Homo sapiens: one gene and its partners. The protein of the gene in region 4 purifies or fractionates together with the protein of the main gene of each other region. This does not show direct contact. Each region holds a gene or a part of one and is shown on either strand. Other genes may lie near its edges. The genes, in order: TRIM71, TRIM4, ST13, DYRK4, TRIM56, PJA2 and UBE3C.

What was found.
Region 1: the proteins of DYRK4 (region 4) and TRIM71 purify together in Homo sapiens (affinity purification with western blotting; one study listed by BioGRID). This does not show direct contact.
Region 2: the proteins of DYRK4 (region 4) and TRIM4 purify together in Homo sapiens (affinity purification with mass spectrometry, with the first as the bait; one large-scale study listed by BioGRID). This does not show direct contact.
Region 3: the proteins of DYRK4 (region 4) and ST13 purify together in Homo sapiens (affinity purification with mass spectrometry; one large-scale study listed by BioGRID and IntAct). This does not show direct contact.
Region 5: the proteins of DYRK4 (region 4) and TRIM56 purify together in Homo sapiens (affinity purification with mass spectrometry, with the first as the bait; one large-scale study listed by BioGRID). This does not show direct contact.
Region 6: the proteins of DYRK4 (region 4) and PJA2 purify together in Homo sapiens (affinity purification with mass spectrometry, with the first as the bait; one large-scale study listed by BioGRID). This does not show direct contact.
Region 7: the proteins of DYRK4 (region 4) and UBE3C purify together in Homo sapiens (affinity purification with mass spectrometry, with the first as the bait; one large-scale study listed by BioGRID). This does not show direct contact.

The regions. Positions count from the first base shown.
Region 1 is NC_000003.12:32,869,997-32,873,496, forward strand, and holds part of TRIM71 (E3 ubiquitin-protein ligase TRIM71), read left to right. Parts: intron 1-3,500.
Region 2 is NC_000007.14:99,892,717-99,895,530, forward strand, and holds part of TRIM4 (E3 ubiquitin-protein ligase TRIM4), read right to left. Parts: intron 31-2,814; coding exon 1-30. UniProt on the Homo sapiens protein: E3 ubiquitin-protein ligase. Mediates 'Lys-63'-linked polyubiquitination of the innate immune receptor RIGI, this linkage doesn't lead to proteasomal degradation but seems to enhance IFN induction.
Region 3 is NC_000022.11:40,836,140-40,839,639, forward strand, and holds part of ST13 (hsc70-interacting protein), read right to left. Parts: intron 1-3,500. UniProt on the Homo sapiens protein: One HIP oligomer binds the ATPase domains of at least two HSC70 molecules dependent on activation of the HSC70 ATPase by HSP40. Stabilizes the ADP state of HSC70 that has a high affinity for substrate protein.
Region 4 is NC_000012.12:4,565,208-4,568,707, reverse strand, and holds part of DYRK4 (dual specificity tyrosine-phosphorylation-regulated kinase 4), read right to left. Parts: intron 876-3,500; exon of another isoform or gene 754-875; coding exon 660-753; intron 1-659. UniProt on the Homo sapiens protein: Possible non-essential role in spermiogenesis.
Region 5 is NC_000007.14:101,091,981-101,095,480, reverse strand, and holds part of TRIM56 (E3 ubiquitin-protein ligase TRIM56), read right to left. Parts: 3' UTR 1-3,500.
Region 6 is NC_000005.10:109,399,975-109,403,474, forward strand, and holds part of PJA2 (E3 ubiquitin-protein ligase Praja-2), read right to left. Parts: intron 1-3,500.
Region 7 is NC_000007.14:157,141,926-157,145,425, reverse strand, and holds part of UBE3C (ubiquitin-protein ligase E3C), read right to left. Parts: intron 1-3,500. UniProt on the Homo sapiens protein: E3 ubiquitin-protein ligase that specifically catalyzes 'Lys-29'- and 'Lys-48'-linked polyubiquitin chains.

The DNA of each region.
Region 1 (3,500 bases), on a different chromosome or scaffold from region 4:
GGCTACTACCACATTTCTGGCTATAGGACCCTCCACACAGCTCCAGTTTATTTCCTTAAAAATAATTTTACACCTGTTTCAGAGAGAATTACATCCATGCACATCCTTACCTATCGATTGTTTTAACAGCTCTAAAATTGTGGTTTTTCAGTTTCAAATTGTGGTTAGATGAGACATGGAGCTTCTAAATGAAGCATGAAATCCTACCAAAGTTCTGCTCCAACTTTTAGCTGGAAGGTTTATAAAAGTGGATTTCATTTTATAGTTTTTGGACAATGCATTCTTTTAAAAATTCATTGTTTACTAATAACGAGCACATTGAGGCCATTCTTTTACTCACTGGTAGCTTTTTATTATCAACCATTTGGGTGCTCCCTGTCCCCATCTCTGTTGCAGGCGGCCTGGAGCTGTGAAAGCACTGGCTCTTCTGAAACCACAGTGTGTTCTGGGTACTTAGAACTGCATCGATCCTGTGTAAAATGATACCAAGCAGGGATTGCATTCAGAGACCCCTTTCATTTGTATATCTGGGCTCTCAAGGCTGGTCACAGGAGGGCTCTGGTGTCGGCTCAGGGCACCCTGCCTTTCGCTGCCATACCGGCCACTACCTGTTCTGACCAGGATTTTTTTCTGGCTACTGCATCTGCAGAATCTTTTAAAACCTACCATTCATGGGGGGATTGCAAATGTCCAGCATCATCCAGGTTCTGTATTTTGAGGTTGATCTAAACCTAAGAAAAATCACCTTAATTCTTTATAGTTACATAGTTGGAGTCTGGAATGGGCACCCTGGCTCAGCCCAGAACTTACTACTTGTTCTGTTGTTGTTGTTTGTTTTGCACTCTTAGCCCGTGTTGCCTAGGCTAAATTCAGTGCCATGGTCACGGCTCACTGCAGCCTCAACTTCTTAGGCTCAAGGAATCCTCCCACCTCAGGCTCCTGAGTACAAGCGTGAGCCACCACGCCCAGCAATTTTTTTTTTTTTTTTTGGTAGTTTGGGCCCAAGTGTTCCTCTAGCCTCAGCTTCTCAAGGAGCTTGGACTACAGGCATGAGCTGCCACGTCCAGCTACTAGAACTTAATTTTGAAGCTCTTTAGTTTCTGTTGTCAAGTCTCTATTAGGTAGACTTTCTGGGGTGGAAGGGGGTCTTCCGGAGGTACCCAGTCAGGCCCCTTTTGTTTCACAGATGAGACTGAAGCCCAGACAGGTCAAGAGAGGTGATTGGACAGATGGTTCCATAGCCAGGTAGTGCCAGTACTCACTAGCCATGGAGATGAGAGCAATCTAGGTAGTTACAATTTGCAAGAGCCCCTTAGTCCGAAGGAAGCAGGAGAGTGCCATTCAGTCCACACAGCTGTCTTGAGAAGAGGGAAAGAACGGATGCGTTCTCAAGGTTGCTTAGCTGTTAGAAGCAGGGAGGCCACCCGAAGGTTTGGTGGCATGTTTTATTCACATGTACAAGAAACTTTCTGATGGAAGGGTTTTCACACTTCACATCAGCATAGGAGTGATCCCTTCATTCCCATGACAAATGGAGAGAGCAAAGGAAAGGAACGTCGTTCAAACTGGTAGAATTGCTTTAGCACCAGGTCGTAAAAAGGGATTGGCCAGGAATTTTTCCTGAATTTATCCAGCTCAGCATCTTTTGATTAGTATTTATACTTGAGAATTTTAGATTTAAAAGATTATTAGGATTAGATAATCTCTGAAGGATAGATCAGCTTTAAAAGCAACTGATTTAAAGGAGGCAAGTTGCTGCTACCTGGTTTCAGTCTGCCACCATTGCTGGCAAAGCACTGCAGTGATCAAAATTAGTAGGAAAGTTACAAACCTTACCACATTTCCCTTGTATAAAGTAGGATCTGGGCCGGGTGCGTTGGCTCACGCCTGTAATCCCAGCACTTTGGGAGGCCAAGGTGGGTGGATCACGAGGTCAGAAGATCGAGACCATCCTGGCTAACAGGGTGAAACCTCATCTCTACTAAAAATATAAAAAAATTAGTTGGGCGTGGTGGCAGGCACCTTTAGTCCCAGCTACTCCCAGGGAGGCTAAGGCAGGAGAATGGCATGAACTCGGGAGGCAGAGCTTGCAGTGAGCCGAGATCGCGTCGCCACTGCACTCCAGCCTGGGTGACAAGAGCAAGACTCTGTCTCAAAAACAAACAAATAAAGTAGGATCCATAAAAACCTCCTGGTTATAGCAGAACTGTTACTTAACAAAAGTAAAAACACAATATCCTAAATCTTTCGTTTTTCCTGTTTCTGAATCGTAAAGTTTCTAGAGAACCAGTTTAACCCATCCTAGATTACACACTTCCCTATTAACTCAATTAGCCCCGAGTGGAGTAACTTCTGTGTGCTTGAGTGAACCATTTAGGGGGAGCATTTTTCTAGTGGACACACTTTATGTGAAGATTTTGGTTGTTAATAAAATAAAGAACTTGGAGAAGGAAAGAAGCAGCAGTCTCCCTCTGTTTGCCCCCAGCCCTCTCTTTTTGGAGCTCTCCGCCTAAGAAAACCTTCTGGGCCACTTCCAAGCCTTCTCCCCATCTCTGTCTCCCACAACACTCTGCCTTGCTTCTCACCAGAATGAGCTTCTATTCAGTCTGCGCAGAATCGCCTGGAATCTCACATCCTGGATCTCCACCATACCTAGCAAGGTGCTTTGTACTGGTGATGAGAGAGCTGGTGTCATACCTGTGTTGGAACCAGCTCTGTAGAAGGCTCATGCTGGCTTCCCTGCTGTGTCTTTGCTAACACTGTGGCCTTGAGCACTCCCCAACTCCTGTCCTCACCTGGAGATGAAGTGTGGGTGTTGTATTTGTATACTGCTTCCCTGCCTGTTGCATGTTAGCTAGCTTCCCCTCATGCCCAGGTGTACCAGAGGCAAATTTAAGCTCTGCTCTTGAAAGCAATCCAGCAAACATTTACAGAGTGGCGCTAAGTGCCCTGCTCTGTGGAGAGATACAGTAATGAGACTGGCCCAGTTTCTATGCCAAGGAGTTTTCTCTCTTGAGAGCTCCTTGTTTATTAGCAGGTAAAGGTTGTGCCAGCCCTTCTCTCTCTTCCTCCCTCCCTCCCTCCCTCCCTCCCTCCCTCCCAGCGTGCTGGGCCCCAGGGAAGTGTAGAACATCACATAAAGCAGTTCTGTCAGCACTGGCTGCCTCCCAGGTTCAACTCCTTGGAATAACTTGGCATGAAGAAGAAAGGCAAGGAGCTGGCTGACCTTACCACTAGCTTTTTGCCTTCGTTCCAGAAACTTAAGCCTGTAGCTTGCTTGAGTGCCTGGGAGAACCATGCTTTGCACTTTGCATTACTACCTGTGGTGTGAGGATGGTTGTTACTGGCTCTTAACCTTGCTTCACACATCTAGGCTAGAGCAGCAAAGGAAACTTTTCTGGTACATTCTTACATCCAGGCCACTAATATCAGACTAGGTAACACAGTCTTAACAACTTTTCTGGATAATGAAGCTAAGATTCAGGGCAAACTCTCATGCC
Region 2 (2,814 bases), on a different chromosome or scaffold from region 4:
GAGCTGTGTCTTCAGCTAGGTTTACAGCCACTGTGGAGAAAATGAGAGCTAAGTAGTGCAGCAGCTTATCATCAACCCTTCCCCAGAAATGCCCATCTTTTCCAGCATCAGTTTCATCTTTCTCCTCCTAACAAACACTCATGACTCCACTGCTGCCCAACTGATCCTCAGCCAGGCCTAGCAGGCCACAGCATGGCCTTTAGCAACCTGAAGTCCTCATTTCCCTTCTGCTCTAAAAGACTAAGCCCTAGACCAGGCGCAGTGACTCATGCCTGTAATCCCAGCACTTTGGGAGGCTGAGGCAGGGAGATCACTGGAGGTCACGAGAGTGAGACCAGCCTGGCCAACATGGCGAAACCCCGTCTCTACTGAAAATACCAAAAAACAAACAAACAAAAAAACTGGCCCGGCATGATGGTGGGCACCTGTAATCCCAGTTACTGGGGAGGCTGAGGCAGAAGAATCACTTAAACCCAGAAGGCGGAGGTTGTAGTGACCCGAGATCGTGCCACTGCACTCCAGCCTGGGTGACAGAGCAAGATTCTATCTTTAAAAAAAAAAAGACTAACCTCTAGAAACTGGGGATCTAATTATTTCATGCCCCAAGTTTTCACAAACAGCCTAAAATTTGGAGAGATATTAACAAATTCTCACGTTGAATCAAAACTAGAACCAAGGCTGCCGACTAGCTGGTTCTTTGGCTAGATACACACAGGTGTCACATAGGACAGAATAATGAGGTCTCTTTTCACGGGTTCCAGTTGTTTATGGGGCATCTCCACAAATCTCCCCACAGATCATTCAAAACTGAACTAATTATCTTACTTACACCCCCTTCTATACTCTCGGGACTAATCCACTTCATATGCAGACATCTTGCCTTCTATGTTCTCTAAGGTGTCAGAGTCCCCTCCACCTGAACACTCATGCTTTTAAATCTTTATTTTCGACTCTTTCCTCTAACCTTCAATAGCTAGTTAGTCACCAAGTCCTACCAATTCTACCTCTGAAATTTGTCACTCAGGTTCTTTTCCTCCCCTCCACTCCCATTGCCACTGCCTTTACTCCAATCTCCAGTGTCACTCAATGTGTTAATAATGTCCTCCCTGGCCTCCCTGACTCCAAATTCCCTTCCCTCTAACTCTCCATGTCTCTTGAGTTTGAGGACTTTTTTTAAAAAAAATCAGGAATGTATGCTAGAGTTTGACAAATGCTTTTCCTGCTTCCACTGAGACAATCACATGGTTTTCCTTTTTTTTTTTTTTTTACTTTAGTGATATAAACTACATCGATTTTCAAATATTAAACCAACTATGCTCTTCTGGGATAAATCTCACATATTGTGATTATTATACATTATCCTTTTTGTATACCAAAGGATATATAAATTGGTTGTGATTATTACATATTATCCTTTTAATATATTGTTGGATTCAATTTGCTAAAGTTTTCTGAGAATTTAGGTATCTATGTTCATGAGAGACATTGATGTATAATTCTTTTCTCTTGTGACGTCTTTGTCTGATTTTGGCATCATGGTAATACAGGCCTCACAGAAAGAATTGGGAAATATTCCCTCTTCATCAATTTTCAATAGGAGTTCTTGAAGAATTGGCATTTATTTCTTAAATGTTTGGTGAAATGTTTCACCAAGAAAATCATCTGGGGACCAGGCGCGGTGGCTCATGCCTGTAATCCCAATGCTTTGGGAGGCCAAGGCAGTGGATTACGAGGTCAGGAGTTCAAGACCAGCCTGACCAACATGGTGAAACCCCATCTCTACTAAAAAAAAATACAAAAATTAGCCAGGCATGGTGGCGCGCACCTGCAGTCCCAGCTACTTGGGAGGCTGAGGCAGGAGAATCACTTGAACCTGGGAGGTGGAGGTTGCAGTAAGCTGAGATTGCACCACTGCGCCCCAGCCTAGGCAACAGACCAAGACTCCATCCCCCCCCCAAAAAAAAAAAGAAAAGAAAAGAAAGAAAAGAAACAAAACGAAAGCCATTTGGAAGGTTTCTAATAGCAATTTCTTTCATAGAAATAAGATTATTCCAGTTATCTCTATCTTCATGAGTCAGCTTTTGTAATTTGTGTCTTTTAAGGACTTCATCCATTTCATCTATATTGTCAAGTTTATTGGCAAAAAGTTGCTCTTAATATTCTATTATCCTTTTAATATCTGCAGAATCTGTAATGATGTCACCTTTCTCATTTCTGACATTAGTAATGTGTGTTTTCTTTTTTTCTGATCATTTTGATTAAAGGTGTGTCAATTTTACTGAAATTCTCAAAGGACCAGCTTTTGGTTTCATTGGTTTCTGTTGGCTTTCTGTATTTCACTGCAATGATTTCTGCTCTGATTTTTATTATTTCCATTCTTCTGTTTACTTTGGGCTTTACTTGCTCCTCTTTCTCTAGTGTCTTAAGGTGGAAGCTGAGGTCAGTGATTTGAGAAGTTTCTTCTTTCCAATATAGCACTATACACTTTTCTTTAAGTTTTGCTTTAGGTGCATCCCACAAATTCTGGTATATTGTCTTTTCCTTTTCATTCCATTCAAACTACTTCCTAATTTGCCTTTTGATTTCTTCTTTAATTCAAGGGTTACTAAAAAGTCTATTATTTAGATTCTTGATATTTAGGGGGGTTTCTAAGGATATTTTGATACTGATTTCTATCAATTCCATTGTGATCAGAGAACATACTCTGAATGATCGGAATCCTTTGAATTTGACACTTGCTTTACAGCCAGCTTAGTCTATCTTGGAAAATGTTTCACGTACACTGAAAAAAATATGTAGTATATAGCTGTTGGG
Region 3 (3,500 bases), on a different chromosome or scaffold from region 4:
CCCATATTGATCTTGTTTAAGGAAAAAGTAGACGGGCACGGTGGCTCACGCCTGTAATCCCAGCACTTTGGGAGGCCAAGGCAGGCAAATCATGAGGTCAGGAGATCGAGACCATCCTGGCTAACACGGTGAAACTCCATCTCTACTAAAAAATACAAAAAATTAGCTGGGCGTGGGGGCGGAGCCCTGTAGTCCCAGCCACTTGGGAGGCTGAGGAGTGGCGCGAACCCGGGAGGCGGAGCTTCCAGTGAGGCGAGATCACCACTGCACTCCAGCCTGGGTGACACAGCACGACTCCGTCTCAAAAAAATAAAAATAAAAATAAAAGAAAAAAGTAAAAAGATAAAATCAATTTAAAGGATAAGATAAATTAATTTTATTCCATTGATTTTCTTTTATCCATTAAATTAAAAAGAAAAAATTAAGCTTAGAAAGGAAAAGTAACCCATGTTAACTTCACAGGGCTGATTTTAAAAGAAAACAACAATATGCTTATTATTTGAATTCAAAGAAATGGTACAAAAATTCAAGAAAACTAGAATTCATAAAAGACCATAACCTATACTTTAATTCATTTTGTCCTATTCTCATAGTTAGCTTCTTTACTAATCCCTTATGTCATTCAACAAATAAAACACCCTATAGAATCAGAAGAGTTCTTTGCACAAAGTCTAAATCTTGGGGAGGCAAGACAAATACAGAATTTTTTTTAAGAGACAGGGTCTAACTCTCACATAGGCTAGAGTACAGTGGCATGATCATAGCTCACAGGCTGAAGTGATCATCCCACCTCAGCTTCCTGAGTAGCTGGGAATACAAGCCCACAACACTAAACCTGGCTAATTAAAAAAAATTTTTTAGAGACTGGGCCTCACTGTGTCACCTAGGCTGCTCTCGAACTCCTGGGCTCCAGTAATCCCCCCAACTCAGCCTTCTGAGTAGCTGGGATTACCACTGTGCCAGGCCGAACACAGAAATTTTTAAATAAATGTCACAATTCACTGTGAAAGATACTTAGCCAGTTAGCGAATGAGTAAAGGACTTGAAAAGAACTCACAAAAACAACACAGAAAAATGCTCAGTCTTATTAATTACTACTACAGGTATCTATTATAGGTAATTACACTTAAATGTCTAATAAACAACTCAGACCTACCATGTTCAAAACCTAAATTTTTTTTATGACAGGGTCTTGGCTGGGCACAGTGGCTCACGCCTGTAATCTCAGCACTTTGGGAGGCCGAGGCAGGTGGATCACCTGAGGTCGGGAGTTCAAGACCAGCCTGACCAACATGGAGAAATACCAAGACCAGCCTGACCAACGTGGAGAAACCCCGTCTCTACTAAAAATATAAAATTAGCCGCATATGGTGGCGCATGCCTGTAATCCCAGCTACTCAGGAATCTGAGGCAGGAGAATCGCTTGAACCCGGGAGGCGGAGGTTGCGGTGAGCCAAGATCGTGCCATTGCACTCCAGTCTGGGCAACAAGACTGAAACTCCATCTCAAAAAAAAAAGGTCTTGCTCTGTCACCCAGGTTGGAGTGCAGTGACACAATCACAGCTCACTGCACCCTCAACTTCCTGGGCTCAAAGGATCCTCCCAGCCTCAAGGGAACCTCCCATCTCAGCCTCTCAAGTAGCTCATATTACAGAAACGTGCTACCACATCCAGCTAATTTTTTGTGTTTAAGAGATGGAGTCTCACTGTGTTGACCAGGCTGATCTTGGACTCTTGGACTCAAGAGATCCTTTCGCTTCGGCCCCTCAAAGTGCTGGGATTGTTAAGTGTGAACCACCACGCCCACTCAAAACCGAAAAACTGAATTCCCATTTCCTAGCCCATTTCCAAATCTATTCCCAATCTGTATCTTCCCAACTAAACAAATGGCTCCTCCATACATTTAGTTCAGGAGTTGGTAAACGTTTTCTGGAAAGGGCCAAATAAGAATTATTTTAATCTCTGCAGACCATACAATCTGTCATAACTACTCAATGATGCTGTTGTAGTGGGAAAGCAGCCACAGTTAAGTGCCAGACGTGGGATTCAAACCATACCACTCTGGCTCCATACTCCAGGTTTTAATTACATTCTCCAAACAAAACTGCCTTCACCAACCTTGGTGGAGCTTGGATTCACAACCCCTGCTTTAGAATACTAATCTTTTATCCTTTAGAATACACTATACAATTGCATAAATTCTAAAATCAGAACTAGATTAAATTTACAAAGGCACATGAACAGAGAGTTCAGAAAAAAGTGAGAAAACAAAAACATGATTAGGTGATAGCCTCATTTTCCTTTTGTTACATATTGCCGAGACAGTAAATTTTAAAATGGGCTGGGCACAGTGCCTCACACCTGTAATCCTAGCACTTTCAGATGCTGAGCTTGGGAGGCCTGCTTGAGGGCAGGAGTTCAAGACGAGCCTGGGCAACAGGATGAAACCCTATCTCTACCAAAAAAAAAAAAAAGAGATAATAATTAGCCAGGCATGGTGGCAGGCACCTGTATTGCCAGCTACTCAGGAAGATTGCTTGAGCCTACAAAACTTGAGGCTGCAGTGAGCCATGACCATGCCACTGCACTCCAAACTGAGTGGCAGAGTAAGACTCTGTCTCTTAAAATTTAGGTGGTAGGGAAATTAGCAAAAGTTTCGTGCGATGAAAAGGAATGGTACAGAAGAGCAATGGCTGGGAACAACTGATAGGTATGAATTAAAAGTTGAAATATGTGAAGAAAAGCTTTCCAGAGAAACAGTATAGCATAAATAAAAAAAAAAAAAAAATTCTAGAACAGTAAAGTCTGACTGGAGAAAACAAGATTGGAGAAGTAAAATACAGGATCTTAGTCTGGCAGGTCTATAATCCTCTGATGAAGATCTTAAATATATATGCAAAAGTTAATCACAGGTTACAAGCAAGAGTAGAATAAAAAACAGCTCTAAGAATAACCTAGGGAAAGTAAACAGAAAGCAATAAAGGAATAAATTTTTCAGGAAGGTAAACTATTAAGGCAACTGCAGTATAAAACAGTATAAACATGTTTTAAGGAGCTAAATTAATCAGGTGGTAGAATCACAAAATGTTTAAAATATATACTAACTCGGAACATCAATACTGAACTCATTCTAAAAATAACTTCAATCATCTTCTAAATCTAATAATGAAGTCCAAATGCACATGAGCACTATACAATAGCATCTAGTCAACTATGGCATTGTGACACACTATCACTGTTATAAAGAGTGAAATATTACTCAAGCAGCCACAGTACCCAAGTTTATACATGATTTGTTCTTACAAATTATAACCGATCAAACATTACACTTAATACTACCATGGGCCGGGCGCAGTGGTTCGCGTCTGCAATCCCAGCACTTTGGGAGGCAGAGGCGGGCACATCACTCGAGGTCAGGAATTTGAGACCAGCCTGGCCAACATAGTGAAACCCCGTCTCTACTAAAAATACAAAAATTAGCTGGAGATGGTAGCACACGC
Region 4 (3,500 bases):
TATTAGAAAAAAAGTAGGTCTTGGCCAGGCGTGGTGGCTCACGCCTGTAATCCCAGCCCTTTGGGAGGCCGAGGCGGGCAGATCACTTGAGGTCGGGAGTTCGAGACCAGCCTGATCAACATGAAGAAACCCCATCTCCTCTAAAAATACAAAAATTAGCCAGCCGTGGTGGTGCATGCTTGTAATCCCAGCTACTTGGGAGGCTGAGGCAGGAGAATCGCTTGAACCCAGGAGGTGGAGGTTGCAGTGAGCTGAGATTGCACCATTTCACTCCAGCCTGGGCAACAAGAGTGAAACTCCGTCTCAAAGAAAAAAAAAAAAGAAAAAAAGCAGATCTTTTCTGGAAACGTTCTTCAACTATTCCAGGTAACTTCCAGTAGGATCTCACATATATACAGCAGAATAAAAGATACCATGGATGCACTCACCCAGGGCCTTCTGGAATACAGCTTACCTGTTAGATTAAGGCCTTGCCCTTCTGCTGATTTTCCCTCCACACCCACCCAGATTTGGCCCTGCCAATCAGCATGATCCTCCACACCTTTGCCTTTGCGCTGTACCCAGAGGTGCTTGGGGCACAACCATCAGCACTGGGTCCTGAGTCCCTAGGACCTCGCAATGATACCTCTCTTCCCCAGTGAAAATTCAAGGATCTTTACCTTCGCAGAGGTGAACTTTTGTTTCTTTCTTGCTTTCAAAACCAGGAAGGGAGTCAAATCACATTTCCTTGGCTTTTTAGCATCCATTTGAGTCCTGCATGAGGGAAAGTAAAAAATAAATTGGCAGGAGGAGTCAAATCTAAGTAATGGCCCACACACTCAGGGACAGAAGAAAGCAGGCAGGTTTGAAGAAAAGAAGGCAACAGGCCTAAAAGCAGGAGCAGGGTCCCTGCTTCTCCCTTGCTTCCCTTCTGATGGTCACATGAGGTCAGGAGGTCAGACAGAAGCCAGGGAAGGAGGAAGAGATAATCAGGTGATTAGCAGTTTAGACAACCAAAGGGGAAAAAAACCATTTCCCCTACTTAACTGGAAAGTAAACCTCATGCTTTTGCCACAAACATAATATCCCCTTACAGGATGGGCGTATTCATGGGCTACTTAGATAGTTTAATGCCTATAGAAAAAGAAAAGGGGAACAATTGGTAGAAACACTTCCTCTAACTCTCATTTGGCCATGTTTGCATCTTCTTCATTCACAGCACAGTTCTATTAATAATTGACTTACTGCAAGACAAAAAAAACCTTGCACACATTTATGGAATCTAGTGTAAGCAGTAATTTCTATAAGTGGAAGGTGAGTCTCAGAGGGGTCTCAGGACACTTACATTCCCTGTTACATTAGCAGAGTACAGCTGAAACCGCTTGCTCTGTGTCCTTTGCAAGTCCCTTTTCGGCTTCTAGCTTTAGCCAAGAGCCAGAGGAATCAAGAATACAAGAAACAAGGGCAGAACAGGAACCAATGCAAATATTATGACAGCTTCTGCAAATCACTCCACTGGCAGGCTCTTGCAGACACCATATAAATGATGATGGCACCACAACTTTGAAAGTATTCAGAGGATTAAAGAAAAGTCATGCTAACATTTCTTGCAGTATAACTATTGAAAAATCAGAACTTGTCCATAATGGGAAGTTAACAATTCATGGCACACATATGTTTTATGAAATATAATGCAGCCATTTAAAAAATAAGATAGATCTTTATATGTGCCCATAATGTATTGAGCAAAAACAGTAGAACATGTGTGTAATATAATTCTATATTTATTTAACAGAAAACAAAATGCTTGCATGTCTTTATACAGGCATATTGAAAGATCTAGAAGAAATGAACTGTAATAGTGACCTCTTCTCAGTAGGGCTGGGGGAGGTAAGTAGGAACATTAACTTTAACATACACACACATACAGACAATATGAAAAAATCCTGCACAAAAGCAAACAAAAATTACCAGTAACTTCTCTGCTTAAGATCATAGTTTCACTTCTTCCTTCTCTTCCTTTCTTTCTATAAACATTTGCTGAGACAATTTCACTGATAAACCAGACATGGTCTCTGCCCTCAAAGAAAACTCCTTATCCAGGAAAGGAGGTACATAGAAGAAAGTAGATCATGACAATGCATGTGATCGATGTATTAATACAGCCTTCTGCAACCAGCTCCCAGAGCATGTTTCCAGGTGTTGACTAAGTCAGCTGGAGGAGCTGAGGAAGCCTTCACGCTTGAGCAGGGTAGAACCATCTCTGAAGAATGAGCAGAGCAGGCAGGAGTGTCAAGGGCAGATGGAGGAGGACACACAAAGAACATAAATATGAAAGAACATTGTTTTTTCCAGAAATTTTGAGCACTGTCCTTGGACATTGCCGATGGAGGGCCAGGGAGGTAGATTAGGTTGTAAAGGGGCACGTAGTCCAAGTTAGAGTCTTGGAGCCTGCGTGGCTATGCTAAACCTGGGCTGAAGATCAGATTTGTATTCTGGTACCATTTCTCTGGCAATATCACGAAGCACGATTTGGAGGAACTAGGAAGGCATTTTGGGTGTCTAGATAAGAGTGAATGAGAGCCTCAACCAAGGCACTGACAGTGGGGATAGAAGTATGAACTTGGGAAAGATTTGGGAGACAGAACAGGTAGAATTGTGGCCATCAACTGGACATGGGATTTGTAAAATCGCAACATTGGGCAAAAATGAACACAAAAATTTTTCCTGCCAAGACTCTGTATCGAGTGTTGCCTTCCTTTACTTCACAGAGATGTAGGAGACTATGAAAGTACATGTGGGATGGGCATGGTGGCTCACGCCTGTAATCCCAGCACTTTGGGAGGCCGTGGCGGGTGGATCATCTGAGGTCAGGAATTCAAGACCAGCCTGGCCAACATGGTGAAACTCCATCTCTACTAAAAATACAAAAGAAGTTAGCTGTGTGTGGTGCCTCACGCCTGTAATCCCAGCTACTCGGGAGGATGAGGCAGGAGAATCTCCTGAATCCGGAAGGCAGAGGTTGCAGTGAGCGGAGATTGCACCACTGCACTCCAGCCTGGGCAACAGAGCAAGACTCCATCTTAAAAAAAAAAAAAAAAGTAAATGTGAAATCTTCCAAACAGCTGGAGCCCTTTCCTCTGTTCAGCTCTGACAGCGCTGGAGGCAGAGAAGGAGCAAACACTGAAGGAAACGCTGAGGAATCATGGAGCCTCGTCACAATGCCACCTAACACACAGTGCCATGATTTTGAATGAGCCATTTGTCCTCTCTGTGCTATTTCCTCATCTGCAAAATAATGAGACTGGAGACTGGAGCAGGTGACTTCTAAAGTCCCTTTGGGGTCTAAATTTCTTTAATTCTACAAAAATACTGACAGACTGAAAAAAAAATCTCTTGTGACTTATTCCAACTTTGCCATCCCTTGGATAATTCTGTGATTATTAAAGACTATTTTGTGCCTTTCTTTTTTTATGCATGAACTCTGGCTTCCAACAGTACAACTTAACCCTTGCTCAAAG
Region 5 (3,500 bases), on a different chromosome or scaffold from region 4:
CCCAAGGTGTGCGATCCCCTACAGTACACGGTTCCCAGTTACCCCCTCCACATGCACAGAAGCGGGACACCCCGATCTCATCTCTCCCTCTTTTATCCCCCCCTTAGGAAACCAGGTTTTGCTCTGTCACTCAGGCTGGAGTGCAGTGGCACAATCAGAGCTCACTGCAGCCTTGAACTCCTGGGCTCGAGCAATCTTCTGCCTCAGCCTCCCGAGCAGCTGGGACTACGGGTGCATGCCACCACCTCTGGCTAATTTAAAAATTTTTTTGTAGAGATGGGGTCTTGCTATGTTGCCCAGCCTAGTCTTGAACTCCTGGCCTCAAGACATCCTCCCGCCTTGGCCACGCAAAGTGCTGAGATAACAGGAGTGACCACTGCACCTGGCTCAGTCTCATTTTTTTTTTTTTTTTTTGACGCGGAGCCCAGCCTTGGGAGGCAGATGCGAACCGTGTCCACAGTGCCCCCTACTGGAGATTCCCCACAAGCCGAGGTTTTGGAGGTGGGAAAGCTTTGGAGAGTCATACCAGTCTCATCCTTGTCTAGATAGTAATTCACTTCACAGACATTCACTGAGCACCTACTATGAGGTATCACAGTGCTGGCTCTGCAGACAGAGCTGCAATGAAGACAGACACCGTTCCCTGCCCCCCTCCCCCCGCCCCCATGTAGCTGATCCCTATTCTAGTTGGTCCTGTAGAAACTCCACTTGGTTTCCAGTTGGTCTGAGTTATTTGGTGAACTCAACAAAACTTCCCCCGCCTTCCAGACACTCCACGATAATTCGATCACCTGGCAGGGGGGACCCCGACCTTTGCAAACCTTCCCAGAGCGGTTCCTTGGACTGCCACCCTGCCCCAATGGCCCTGCCTCCTGGCTGAGCCCCGGCCGGGTGGGATCCTCCTCCCTGGCTCCTGCCTCTTCTTTCATAGGACAATCTCATTCGTTCTGACACCTTCATTCTCAAACCCAGTAGTTATTGAGTATTACTTATAAAGGTGTATTTCCTTGAAGCAAATAATCAAGCATGTATGTTATGTAATGGATAATAAAAACTGAAGTAGAAATGTACACGTATGAATAATAGCACAAAATAATGAAAAACAAACAAAAAACAAAACAAAAAAAACCCCAATCTCCCAAATTAATGACTATTTACAAATTCCGAACCTATTTCTACTCAGTAATTATTTAGACAGATGTTTTCCTTGTTACTATCACTATTTGATCATAATTCCTGATTCTCCGTTTTTGAGGATTATGACTGTATCACGTAACTATTTCTTCTCAATAGTTTTCATAGTTGTCATACACAAAGAAAGGCTCATTCCCCTAATAAACCACAATCTAGTTAGCTGTCACCCTGCAGCCGAACAGTTTCCAGTTCTTGCCTGTAATATACAGAGCAGCCTCAAATGTCTGTATGCAAATATTTTTTCTCTTACATTATTTTCCCAGAATGTATTCCCCAAAGTGAGACAACTGATTCTTATAATCATTTTTGTCATTCTTGCAAAGTCTAGCCAAATTATTCTCCAGGATCATTTTTATAGTGCCAGGAGTCTATTTCTCCGCAAGATTTCTCACCCATTTATTTAACATTTATTTTTGACCACTGCAAGTGGATTTAATTATTTATTTATTATTTTTTTGAGACAGAGTCTCACTGTGACACCCAGGCTGGAGTGCAATGGGGTGAACTCGGCTCGCTGCACCCTCTGCCTCCCAGGTTCAAGCGAGTCTCCTGCCTCAGACTCCCCAGTAGCTGGGATTACAGGCATGCGCCACCACACCCGGGTAATTTTTGTATTTTTAGTAGAGATGGGGTTTCACCGTAGTGGCCAGGCTGGTCTCAAACTCCTGACCTCAGGTGATCCACCCACCTCAGCCTCCCAAAGTGCTGGGATTACAGGTGTGAGCCACCGCGTCCAGCCTTTCTTTTTTTTTTTTTTAATTATTATTATTTTTTATTTTACTAGTCCTTGCCTGCATACATTTCCTCCAGGGTACAGAGCTTATGTGGTTCTTTGACCAAATACTGTTCTAGTCATTGCATGTATTAGAGACCAAGGCTTTCCTCGTCAAATCAATTCTGCATGGTTTTCCCATCTTCTTGGTTTTCTTTTTTTTTTTTTTTTTTTAATTTTTTATTGATCATTCTTGGGTGTTTCTCGCAGAGGGGGATTTGGCAGGGTCATAGGACAATAGTGGAGGGAAGGTCAGCAGATAAACAAGTGAACAAAGGTCTCTGGTTTTCCTAGGCAGACGACCCTGCGGCCTTCCGCAGTGTTTGTGTCCCTGGGTACTTGAGATTAGGGAGTGGTGATGACTCTTAAGGAGCATGCTGCCTTCAAGCATCTGTTTAACAAAGCACATCTTGCACCGCCCTTAATCCATTTAACCCTGAGTGGACACAGCACATATTTCAGAGAGCACGGGGTTGGGGGTAAGGTCTTAGATTAACAGCATCCCAAGGCAGAAGAATTTTTCTTAGTACAGAACAAAATGAAGTCTCCCATGTCTACTTCTTTCTACACAGACACGGCAACAATCTGATTTCTCTATCTTTTCCCCACCTTTCCCCCTTTTCTATTCCACAAAACCGCCATCGTCATCATGGCCCGTTCTCAATGAGCTGTTGGGTACACCTCCCAGACGGGGTGGTGGCCGGGCAGAGGGGCTCCTCACCTCCCAGACGGGGCGGCCGGGCAGAGGCGACCCCCCACCTCCCGGACGGGACAGCGGCCGGGCGGAGGCGCCCCCCACCTCGCTCCCGGGCGGGGCGGCTGGCCGGGCGGGGACTGATCCCCCACCTCCCTCCCGGAAGGCGCGGCTGGCCGGGCGGGGGCTGACCCCCCACCTCCCTCCCGGACGGCGCGGCTGGCCGGGAGGGGGCTGACCCCCCACCTCCCTCCCGGACGGGGCGGCTGCCGGGCGGAGGGGCTCCTCACTTCTCAGACGGGGCGGCTGCCAGGCGGAGGGGCTCCTCACTTCTCAGACGGGGCGGCTGGGCAGAGACGCTCCTCACCTCCCAGACTGGGTCGCGGCCGGGCAGAGGCGCTCCTCACATCCCAGACGGGGCGGCGGGGCTGAGGTGCTCCCCACATCTCAGATGATGGGCAGCCGGGCAGAGACACTCCTCACTTCCTAGATGGGATGGCGGCCAGGAAGAGGCGCTCCTCACTTCCCAGACTGGGCAGCCGGGCAGAGGGGCTCCTCACATCCCAGACAATGGGCGGCCAGGCAGAGACACTCCGCACTTCCCAGAGGGGGTGGCGGCCGGGCAGAGGCTGTAATCTCGGCACTTTGGGAGGCCAAGGCGGGCGGCTGGGAGGTGGAGGTTGTAGCTAGCCGAGATCACGACACTGCACTCCAGCCTGGGCAACATTGAGCACCGAGTGAACGAGACTCCGTCTGCAATCCCGGCACCTCCGGAGGCCGAGGCTGGCGGATCACTCGCGGTTAGGAGCTGGAGACCAGCCCGGCCAACACAGTGAAACC
Region 6 (3,500 bases), on a different chromosome or scaffold from region 4:
GGAGGAAGCTTTTAGTGAGCTCAAGATAAATCAGGCCAGGCTCAGTGGCTCACACCTGTAATCCCAGCAATTTGGGAGGCCAAGATGGGTGGATCACTTTAGGTCAGGAGTTCAAGATCAGCCTGACCAACATAGTGATACCCGTCTCTACTAAAAATACAAAAAATTAGTGAGACGTGGTGGTGCACGCCCATAATTCCAGCTACTCAGGAGGCTGAGGTACGGAGAATCGCTTGAAGTCGGGAGGCAGAGGTTGCAGTGAGCCAAGATCACACCACTGCACTCCAGTCTGGGTGATGGACTGAGACTGTCTCAAAAAAAAAAAAAGAAAAAGATAAGTCAAAAGAAATGATCCAAGCCTAGATAAAAAGTGATTTAACTGAAAAGAAACATGTTAAAAAACAACAGCAACAAAAACCAAAACAGAGCCTCCAAGAATTGTGGACTGCATTAAATGAGCTGCCATGAGTTTAACTGGAACCCCACAAAAAGAGAGCAAACCAGCAGGGGGAGGGGGGGGAAGGGCGGGGGGGTGTCGCGGGCAGTGGAAACATTAGAAGAGAAAGATGCTGTGAATTTTTCATACATTATTTAAAAGATCATAAATCCCAAGAAGCTCAGTGATTCCCCCCTACAAAAGCAGTATAAATACAAAACACACAAAAATGTACACATATCCCAAGATGTTAACATCTTTAACCTGCTATAAAAAACGAATGATATGGCCGGGCATGGTGGCTCACACCTGTAATTCCAGCACTTTGGGAGGCAGAGGCAGGTGGATCACGAGGTCAGGAGATTGAGACCATCCTGGCTAACATGGTGAAACCCCGTCTCTACTAAAAAAATACAAAAAAAATTAGCCAGGCATGGTTGCGGGTGCCTGTAGCCCCAGTTACTCAGGAGGCTGAGGCAGGAGACTGGCATGAACCTGGGAGGCAGAGCTTGCAGTGAGCCGAGATGGCGCCACTGCACTCCAGCCTGGGAGACAAAGCAAGACTCTGTCTCAAAAACAAAAAACAAAACAACAACAACAAAAAAACCAAATGACACATGCCTGTAATCCCAGCACTTTGGGAGGCCAAGGAGGGCAGACCACTTGAGGCCAGGAGTTTGAGACTAGCATGGCCAACATGGTGAAACCCTGTTAAATACAAAAATTAGCCAGACGTAGTGGCGGGAGCCTGTGATCGCAGATACTTGGGAGACTGAGGCATGAGAATCACTTGAACCCGGGAGGTAGAGGTTGCAGTGAGCTGAGATGGCGCCATTGCACTCCAACCTGGGCGACAGAGTGAGACTCTGTCTCAAAAACAACCGCTACCACCACCAATGACAGCCTGGGCACAGTGGCTCAGGCCTGCAAATGCAGGATTTTTGGAGGCTAAGGTGGGAGAATTGCTTGAGTCTAGAAGCTCAAGGCTATAGTGAGACAAGCTTGTACCACTGCACTCCACTTGGGCAACAGAGCGAGACCTTGTCTCAAAAAAAAACAACAAATAAAATAAAATTTAAAAACCACTGATAAAACATATTTGATACTGACAGCAGAAAAAAGGAACTAAATAAGAATCACAGCCAAATTCTTATTTGAAACTGTGCAAGTCAAAAGATAATAAATAGCATCCTTAATATTAGAAAAACACTGTGAACAATAAATTTATATCCAGCAAAATCTTTCAAAAGAAAAAGTGAAACAAAGTATTTGTGAAACAATCTTTGGAACTTTGTTACCAGTAGAATTGAAGTCCAAGAAATGTGAAAGGAAGTTCTTCATGCAGAAAGAATAAGCACTGGAAAAGAGGCCACTATAACACAGAAAATCAATTTTAATTTAACTTGTACTAACTACTTTAAATTCAAATTTAAATAGCTACACTGGCTAATGACTACCATACTAGACAGCACAGGAATAAAACAAATATTACAAGGTATTATGCATTTATGGCATTTGTAAAAGGTAAAACAGTAATAGCACAAAAGATAAGGAGAAATTGTAAATATACATTGTAAATATACTGTTGTAAAGCTCTGACACTATATAAAATGTGGTATAGTATTGCTTCCATATGGTCTATTATTAAAGATGTAAAATATAAATCACAGAGAAGCCAATTAACTTTTTAAAAGAGAGGAAAAGTTGAGTGTAAGTAGTGAGCCAATGGTGAAGATAAAATGCACTCAAAAATAGGCATCAGAGAGCACATAAGTAGAAAACAATTAAGATTGTATATTTAAATCCAACTACATCAAAATTACATTAAATGTAAATAGTCTAAACACTTCAATGTAAAAACAGATTTTTCAAGATGAATTAAAAAAGGCTGTCTAGAACAAACCCATTTTAAATAAAAGACAGATTAAATGGATGGAAAATAATATACAAACACTAAAAGGAGGCTGGAGAGGCTGTATTAATATTAGATAAAGTAGACTTTGGAATGAGGAATACTATCAGAGATAAAGAGGGCATTATATAATGATTAAGGGGTTCATTCACCAAAAAGTTTTAACAATCCTAAATTTACATGCACCTAACAGGAGGTTCAATACACATGATGCAAAAACTGAAAAGGAGAAATAAACAAACTTACCATTATACTTGGAGACTTCAACTCTTCTCTCAATGATCAATGAAACAAACAAAAACTCAGTAAGGAAAGAGAAGGCCTAACAAGCATCATCAATCAACTTGATATAGAATACTCCACTGCTAAACAGCAGAATACACATTATTTTGAAGTGTACATGGGACATTTACTGAGAGTAACCATATTCTGGTCATAAAACAAATATCAAAGAATTTAAAATAAATTATACAAAGAAAGAGACATGCAAAATCACCAAATATTTGGAAATTAAACAGCAACCTTCATGGGTCAAAGTGGAAGTGACATAAGAACTTTAAAAAAAATCAGTGCATCAAATTTGTGTAAGCACCTCAGGCAGTGCTTGGAAGGAAAAGAAAAAAGGTCTCAAGTCAATGACCTAAGCTTACACCTTAATAAATTAACATAGAGGAATTTAAACCCAAAGCATATAGAAAGAAATAGTAAGAAGCAGAAATCAATAAAACTAACAATTAAAAAAAAAGCAATCAAATAAAAAGTTGACTCTGAAAAGATTAATAAAATAAACCTAGAACCAAATAAAAATGAGAGGTCACACTGCTAATAACAAGAATGAAAGGAAAGACACCACTACAGACGTTATAGGCATTAAAATAATTAAGAAACAACTTTATGACAACGAATAAATGAAATAAGACAAATGCCTTGAAAGACAAAAACTACTAACGCTCACTTAGTGAGTGAAAGTGATTCATACAAAGACCGAAAGCTTTCAAGAAGAAATAGATAACCCTAATAATCCTGTATTTATTAAAGGATAATTGGACTTATCCTTTGAAGCCTTCCAGCAAAGAAAACTCTAGGACCAGAAGAGTTCACATGCAAACTCTAAAAAAAATTGTAAAACAAATAATACTAATCCTAATAAAT
Region 7 (3,500 bases), on a different chromosome or scaffold from region 4:
CTGCCTCAGCCTCCTGAGTAGCTGCAATTACAGGCACCTGTCACCACGCCTGGCTAATTTTTGTATTTTTAGTAGAGATAGAGTATCACCATGTTGACCAGGCTGGTCTCGAACTCTTGACTCCAGGTGATACACCCTCCTTGGCCTTCCAAAGTGCCGGGCCTCCTCCTTTTTTCTTTTTTTTGGAGACAGAGTCATGCTCTGTCACCCAGGCTGGAATGCGCTGGCACAATCCAGGCTCACTGCAACCTCCACCTCCAGGGCTCAAGTAATTCTCCTGCCTCAGCCTCCCACGCCCAGCTAATTTTTTGTATTTTTAGTAGTGACGGGGTTTCACCACGTTGGCCAGGCTGGTCTCAAACTCCTGACTGCCTACCTCGGCCTCCTAAAGTGCTGGGATTACAGGCATTAGCCACCACACCTGGCCAGCAATGAGGATTTCTAGGGCAATGACACTCTTCTGTATAACGCTGTAAGGGTAGATACATGTCATCATATATTCGTCAAAACCTACACAATGCACAACACACAGTGTGAACCTGAATGTACACTATGGACTTCAATTAATAATAACACATCGACATTGGTTTATCAATTGTAACTGATGATCCACATTAATGCCAGATGCTAGTAATAGAGAAAAGTGAGGTGAGGGAGACTAGGCATATGGGAACCCTACCCTCTGCTTGATTGTAAACCTGAAACTGCTCTAAAAAATAAAGTCTATTTTTTTTTAAAAAAAGCACTGGACAAACATTAAAGTGATCTTAATTCTACTCCCACTATTGTCAGATCTACAAAAACTTAAAAAATTTCAGTTCCTCCGGTCTACAAACTTTTCTATATCCATATTCATCCCTAGCTTCTTTAAGTCTCAAAATATTTCCCATTGCCTGCTCCCACTCAGTTCTCCCCTCTCGGGTATTCTCGAAGACTCTGAAAGTTATGCCACTCCTGTCTTCCCCACATTTTTAACCCCCGTCCTTCCCAGTCTATAAACTTAAGTTTCCCCCGTCTCCCAAAACAGACAAAACTATTTCCGAGACACCGAATTTCCCTCTATCATCCAATCTTCCGGTGCTTTTCAAAAAAGGTCTACACTGTTGCCTTGCCCCTGCCTTATTTTTTAAGAGATGGGGTCATGCTGTGTCGCCTAGGCTGGAGTGCTATGGCATGATCACAGCTCACTGCAGCCTTGAACTCCCGGGATCCAGCGATCCTCCCGCCTCAGTCTTCGGTGTGGCAGATTGTAGGCGTGCGCCACAGCATCCGGCCTGTGTTCGGCCCTGTTTGTGACTTCCCATTCACTCTCCAATGTGCTATGCTCTTGACTTCCAACTCTGACTACCCTACAGAATATGCTCAAATCACCCAATTCTTCCCAGCTCCGCAGTCAGTGGACTCACTGTGTCTGTGCAGCACTTGGCATTGCCTGTCACTCCTCCCTCCCTGAGATTCACTCCCTGGACACCACTCTCCTCCACTCCCGGAGGTGTGACTCTTTTGTAAGTATCCCCAACTCCCACACATATTAAATGTTGCAGTACCTCACGAGTCCCACCCTGTCCCAAACTCCAAGTCCTCTTAAGGACCTGTGTTCGAAGCCACCATTCTGTTGATAACCCCCAAATCTGCATCTCTAGCCTAGACTCCTTCCTGTGCCTGTCCCACAGGAACTCAGGCATTCAGTCAACGACCACTCCCCGCTTCTTGAAGAATCTACCCCAGCCCTCAGGTGCACCTAGACTGTTCCATCTGAACCAAGCCTCCAAGCCCTCCTCAGACTGAGGTTATCAGGTGGAAACATGACCCAGGCCAATCAGACTTTCCTCTCCTGAAAACTGGTAATTATGATCAAACTTTCTTGACGCTTAAGCTAGGAAACCATGTGTGAGAAATGGAGAAAGCCAGTCTGCAGAGCCAGGAATGAAGGAGACAGGAAGAAGGGAGTGCACCCAGCTCCTGGAGAAAGACAAGCAACTCCTGTGGTGGTGATACCTGCTATCTGGGTGTTTCTGACCTTTCTATTCTGTCAGACACGCCTATCCTTTCATAAACTTGTTTTTGTTTCTTTTTGTTTTGCCTACTAAGCTAGTTTTAGTCCATTTCTGTACTTGAAATCAGATGACCCCGTGATATTCTTCTATACACTACCAAGAAAAACATACCCCCAATTAAACTGCATCATGCTATCAGTGTGTATCCCGATGTCAGAAATATTTAAAGATAGAAATCAGTGTGACTTAAAAAAAAATTTCAGGCTGAGCGCAGTGGCTCATACCTGTAATCCCAGCACTTTGGGAGGCTGAGGCAGGCGGATCACCTGAGGTCGGGAGTTCGAGACCCGCCCGACCGACATGGAGAAACCCCATCTCTACTAAAAATACAAAATTAGCCAGACGTGGTGGTGCAGGCCTGTAATCCCAGCTACCCGGGAAGCTGAGGCAGGAGAATCGCTTGAACCCGGGAGGTGGAGGTTTGTGGTGAGCTGAGATCGCACCATTGCACTCCAGCCTGGGCAACACTGCGCTCCAGCGTGAGCGAAACTCCATCTCAAAAAAAAAAAAAAAATTCAACTTTTATTTTAGAGTTAGGGGGTACCTATGCACGTTTGTTACAAGAATATACTGCAGGACGCGGAGGTTTGGGGTGTGAATGATCCCATTACCCGGGGAGTGAGCACAGTTACCAACAGGTAGCTTCCCAGCCCTTGTCCCCGTCCCTCTCTTTCCCCCTCTAGTAGTCCCTGGTGTCTATCATCCCATCTTTATGTCCATGTGTAATCAATGTTTAGCTCCCCAAAGTGACTTTGAATCAATGTAATCCAATCTACATGTACTCCACACACCCCGCTCCACGAACCTGGAATGCCTTCTCGTCTTCCACCCATCCTAATTACACCCATCCTTCAGGACTAAGCTCCAAACAATTCTACTTTTTCTGAATCAGGACCAAGGGAAATTTAGAATGTAGCAATTACTCTATTGTTATTTAATTTTTAATTGCTTAAGTCTTATCTGCCCAACAAGATTATCAACTTCTTCAAGTCAGACTTGTCGTACACAGATCTATACAAATAATAAATACTAAAAGTATTTAATTTGAAAAAAGAAAAAGCTTATTCAAAGGTGGTAACCACTCCATTTTCCACTAAGCTCCAGAAAGGGAAGATTTCAAATAATAATTTAAGACATGAGAAAAGGGTCACTATAACTTCATTTTTCCAACAAGGGAAGGGACTTATGCGGCAGTCAAAGAGAATTCAGGAAAACAAGCATATGTAGGTGCTCAACATAATTAGTTGTCAGGAAACAAAATTAAAACCACAAAGAAACTACATCCTCACTAAAATTAAAGGACTTGCAATATCAAGTGTTGGCAAGGATGTGGAAACCTGGATACCTTCAGATGCTGTGGGCGTGCGACACGGGGAAACTGTGGCAGCGGTGTGCACAACAGCTGAACATGCGTATCATCTAGGACCCAGCACAAGAGTATTA